Regions from separate parts of the Homo sapiens genome. Here region 1 is linked to region 2. A link means that fine-mapping ties the variant in region 2 to the expression of a gene that starts in the linked region. Tissue or cell type: left ventricle. Region 2 holds a variant in brackets; the other region holds the start of a gene. All regions are shown on one strand. Distances are from middle to middle.

What was found. PIP is the estimated chance that this variant, and not a neighbour inherited with it, causes the effect.
Region 1: HMGB1 starts here. The variant in region 2 is fine-mapped to the expression of HMGB1 in left ventricle (GTEx, PIP above 0.99).

The regions. Positions count from the first base shown.
Region 1 is chr13:30,464,476-30,467,158 of GRCh38, forward strand. It overlaps HMGB1 (high mobility group box 1), which reads right to left and starts at 1,461. Exons shown (of 5, transcript NM_002128.7): 1 at 1,321-1,461. RefSeq lists silencers at 1-524, 1,124-1,433 and enhancers at 869-1,644, 1,645-2,420.
Region 2 is chr13:30,436,618-30,439,300 of GRCh38, forward strand. No RefSeq gene overlaps it. Among named protein-coding and RNA genes, the nearest start is that of UBE2L5, 15 kb to the left of the region's middle. The variant C/T (reference allele first, on the strand shown) is at 1,118.

The DNA.
Region 1 (2,683 bases), 28 kb after region 2:
CCCGCCCCTAGAACTTCGCCGGTGGCCGCGCGGCCGAGGAGAGAGGACGCGGCCCGGCTCCCAGGCCCGAGGCCGCCACGTGCGCCCGGCAGGCCCTGCAGGCCCGCGCCGCCGCCGCCCCCATTTTGTCAGGCTCGGCGCAGGGAGAAGCCCCGCTCGAAATGGGGGCTGGCTCCGCCCGCGGCCGCCGGGGCCGGCGCGCACGGAATGGCCGCTGCGCGTCTTCTCCGCCTGCGCCGCCGCCGCCGCGAGGGCGAGCGCGAGCGAGAATATGGCTCCTTCCCTTTGTGTGTGTGTGTGTGTGTGTGTGTGTATGAGAGAGTGTGTGAGTGCGAGGGTGCGGGCGCGGCGGCGGCGGCGGGCGGGGTGCGAGCCGCGCTCTGGCGCACACACTCGGCCATTACGGCCGGGGGAGGGGCGGGGGGCGCGCGGCCGGGCCCTCCCCTCCGCGCCGCTCCCCTCCCCCCGCCGCGGTGGGGGCCGCCCGAGGGCCCACCCGCCCGCCACTCCCCGTCTCCCTCCGCGCGGGCCGCGCGCCCCGCCGCCCCCGCACGGAGAACGCGGGGCTGTGAAAAGAGAGAGGAAAAAAAAAGTTGCCTCGGAACTGCTGCGCCCAGCTCCCCCGCCCGCCCGCCTTGTTTTCTCTCCAGCCAGCAGCGCCGGGCCCGAGTCAGCCATGTTCCAGCGAGCGCAGCGGCGCCGCTCCCCCCGCCGCCCGGCCGCCGCCGCCGCCGCGACCGGGCCGAGGCCGGCCGGGCCCGCACTGCCGCCCCCAGGCCCCCGCGCCGCCCTCGCCCGCCGCGGCGCCCCGCCCGCCCCGCCGCCCGCCCGGCTGGCCGCGCTCCCCGCCAGCGCCCGGCTCGCTGCGGCGGCGGCCAATGCAGCCCGGGGAAGCGCCGCCGCTGCCCTCCCGCCGCCGCCGCCGAGCCGCGCCGGCCCCGCCGCCCCGGCCGCGCTCCGCGCACGCCGCCCGCCCGAACGCCCGGCCCGAGGGCCCAAAACACGTTCAAAATTTTTTTAATTAAAAAAAAAATTTTTTTTTTTGCGCCAGTCAGCGCGGACGCCGCCGGGGGTGGAAACTCGCGGGGCGCGGGGCTCCCGGCGCCTCAGGCTGCCTGAGGGCCGGGGCACCGGCGCGGGGCAGCGTTCCCGGCGCCCGGGCAGAGGCTCGCTCCGTGCGCAGTTCCCCCCACGGTCCCCCCTCATTTGCCTTTGTGTGGATCCTGACCCGCCGGCTCCCGGCCGCGGGGATCCGGCCGCCGCGCGGGCTGGGGAGCTGCCGGAGGCGCTCTCCCCGCCGCGGCGCTGCCCCAGACTCACCCTCAGCGAGGCACAGAGTCGCCCAGTGCCCGTCCGGCTCTCACTTGCCCCGGTGCTGTCTCTATGGAGCTCAATGTACTGCAATGGCTGTGAGAGCGGGAGCCAGACGCAGCCTCCTCACTCTCTCCGCTCTGTAACATTACTCTCCAGCCAGCGCGGCTCCTATTGGCTACCGCCAACTCACGGGGCTCGCTCATTGGCCCGATACCTCCCATTGTCCTGACCAGAGCCCGTTTGCTATTGGCTGTCTCCGGGGACACGTCATCAAGGATTGAAACAGCGCGCAAATCTGAATGTGTGTGTATGCCGGGCAAAGAGGCTGAGGCGGGAGAGGCAGAGGCAGAGGCAGCAGCTGCTACGGGAAAGCAGAGCTCTATGGTGTATGTGTGCATGTGTCTAACCCAAGCCAGCCCCACACCGGAGCGGCCGCCGGAGCGAAAAGGGCCTGACTTTTCCACAAGTGTCTCCAACTCCTCAGGCAAAAGAGACACCCACAGGTCTCCCCCCCCCTTCTTGCCCCACATTCACGCCCAAAGCCGTTGAGATAAGAGGCCCCAGGCTTTTAATGGCCCTTCAAAAGTGAGGGCGACACTATGGGATCATGTCCCCTGAAAACTGGGGTCTCTGCTGGTGCTGAGGGGCGGAAGCCGCCGAGCCTCGAGCCCCTCAAAGGTCTCTGATTGCGTTACACTTTAGGTCTCTGGAAAGGCAGGGCTTCTATAAGAAAGTGACATGATCCAGCCAGCCGGGTTTAAAATACCCCTTTTCTGGGCTCATAAGCCGTCACGTCAGGCTCGCTGAGCAGCTGAAATCTTGAGTCAGTGAGCAGGCATTCAGTTTCACCCTTTTTCTTGGTTTGATCGAGTTTCACAGCATGTCTAGAACTTTTTATTTAAATACAAAGCACTGTCTTAACTTCCTGGAAATCAAATAATTATTCCATGTAATTAAAGAACAGCCACTTGGTTTGATATGGGGTACTCTAGCAGGAAATGTTTGTGAGGCCCTGGTAGAATTAGCAAATTCATTAGAGACCACATTCTAAACTGTTTGGCTATTTTATTTGACTTGGTGTGGATTACTGTTACAATCAAACGAATCCTTGTGATGCTATCTTTCCCTCCCATCACACCACTTAGTGCATCCATGTAACTGCTCTAGGATTACAGGAGTTGTAGGTATATGGTTACCCGAAGGATTAGATGCAGGCAGAGAGTGCATGTGCCCAAATCCACAGGCTGTGGTTTCTCTAACTCACCAAGCTGGCTGGTATTAATAGACATACTTACGTCTGTAGAGAAAATGTGCTGGCTGTAGTGGCCAGTTCTGAAGACTCTACAGTTATATCAGTCCTTTATGAAAC
Region 2 (2,683 bases):
GGTGGGCACCTGTAATCCCAGCTGCTTGGGAGGCTGAGGCCGGAGAATGGCTTGAACCTGGGAAGCAGAGGTTGCAGTGAGTGGAGATTGCACCACTGCACTCCAGCCTGGGTAAGTGAATGAGACTTCATCTCAAAAAAAAAAAAAGATACCAGAATCTGTATTAAATACAATGAGTTTCTCACTCCCAGCCTCCTTTTCCTCTTTCTTTCCTTTTTTAATGACTCCATTGTTAAATAAGAAATGGATAATGTCAGCTTTCCCAATGGCACTAGTAGTATTTGTTGCTGTTTCATAAGTAATTTAGGAAAGCAACTGAAGCATAAAGGAGCTAATTATTTATTACTGTCTTCTCCTCTACTGGGTATCACTACAATCTTTAATATTAATGTCTTTCTTACAAGTGTAGGGTTGGAAAATTGAAGTCAGTGAGTTTCATTGATAAATTAAGCAGCTATGAAATGTTATCAGGTGACTAGCTGATCCTGATTTTATCATCAAACTAAAACAGTGCTTTGCTTAATGCATGCATTATCTAAATATTTAATCTAAGTGTGTGTTGATGTATTCTTAATTGTCATAGCACCTTCTTTAAGTGAATCTCTTTTAGGGTCATAAGCAGTTTGAGCTGGTTCTCATAAGTCAAGTGCAAGCTTACCAATCAACAGTTCGACAACCAGTGTGGTACGGACAAAACAGACTGAGCCGCGACAGAACAGCAGCCTGAGTGATGATAGCTGTGCTCAGAAGCCAGCCTAGCCAGAGCTGGCAATTCAGGCAATTCACAGGATAAATCAAAAGCCACAGTCTGGGAGCCTAGAATCAGCAGAGAGGTGTCTGATGTGGATATTGTCGGAAAGCGTGTGCATTGTACAGCCAGCGTATGTCAGAAGAAACATGGTTCTAGTACGTTGCTTTTCAAACTCTACAGGGTGTAGGCAGAGATCATTAAGCAAACAGATGTCAGAAAGGACAGAAAGCTCCTTACCTGGTTCAGCTACCACCTCTCTGTAAAGAAGAGTGCATAAAACCCACACAGATAACCCACCTCTACCCACCCATAGAACATCCTCACTCTAGGAGCATGAAAATACCTAGAGGTTTTCAAGTCTCTCGA[C/T]GGCCGTGTGAAAATTAGCCTAAAATCACATGTGCACAGGCTAAAGATGCAAACCATTTTCTCAAATGAGCACCACATCTTTTCAATTGTTCTGGAATTGGTGACACTACCATCATCCTCTTGATTCCTGTGGAATCTTCTTGGACCCTGACCTTAATGTCCATTTTGCCTGCCCCATGGTGACCCAGCCCCAGTGAGTGTTTTACCTCCAATGGCCGGGAAACCACAGAACACGCTGCCTAAAGCACCATTTATTTTTTATTGTTTGAGACAGGGTGTCACTGTGTTGCCCAGGCTGGAGTGCAGTGGCACGATCTCAGTTCACTGCAGCCTTCACCTCAGGCTCAAAGGATTCTCCCACCTAAGCCTCCTGAGTAGCTGGGACTATAGGCACACCACCACGCCTGGCTAATGTTTTTTTTTTTTATGTTTTGTAGAGATGAGGTTTTGGCATGTTGCTCAGGATGGTCTTGAACTTGTGGGCTCAAGCGATCAATCTGCCTTGGCCTCCCAAAGTTCTGGGACTACAGACATGAGCCACAGCACCTGGCTTTTTTTTTTTTTTTTTTTTTTTTTTTTGAGACAGGGTCTTGCTCTGTTGCCCAGGCTAGAGTACAGTGGTATGAACTCAGCTCACTACAGCCTTGAGCTCCTGGTCTCAGGCAATCTTCCCACCTCTGCCTCCCGACTACAGGTGTGAGCCACCACACCTGGCTAACTTATCACAGATATGAGCCACTGCACCTGGCCAAGCACCATTTTTGTCACTGTCAGTTTCCTGCTTGAGAAATTACAGTGGCTTCTGCATTACTTTAATAATTGTGTCCTCCTTATGACCCTTTGTAGTCTCCAAAGGCTGGGCTCCTCTTCTGTTGCTGAGCTAATCTATTTATTCTCCCCGCCTGCGCTTGGCTCATTCCTGGGCCCAAGCCTTACCACTTGCTACTCTTCCTCTAAATTTGGATTTCTTCCCCTCTCTTGTCCTCAAACCCACTGTCACTTTTGAATTTGAAGACATGTTGCTTTGCACGCCGCTCCTCTTTGGGGTACATCTGTGAGCACCTGCATGGCTAAGAGGGAGTGCTCAGTGAGAACCCAGTGAATGATGAAGGTGTATGTGAATGACGATTGGATGGGAGAGGCTGCCCAAGTGGAAAAGCGGTATTTGCTTTTCAGTACAGGAAAATTTCCGTGATATTTTTCTGGCACACAATAAAGAAAATGCTATATTGAAGCAAATTAATATATTTTAACTTTGTGTAGATGCAGTGGGAATTACTTTTTAAATGGTGTATGGAAATAAAAGAACTGGTTGAAAAGAACAATTTTTCAAATGAATGTGTCTAATGTCTCCCAACAGATAAGGAAGGGAATAGAAATTTGTGAAGAGGATCACACACCATCACTTTTACACACTCACTATGTGATTTCGCAGTAGAATTAGAAAAGTCAAATTTCATAGTCCAAATGTAGAAAATAGTAGGAATTAGGGCTGGGTGTGGTGGCTCACACCTGTAATACCAGCAATTTGGAAGGCCAAGGTGGGCGGATTGCTTGAGTCTGGGA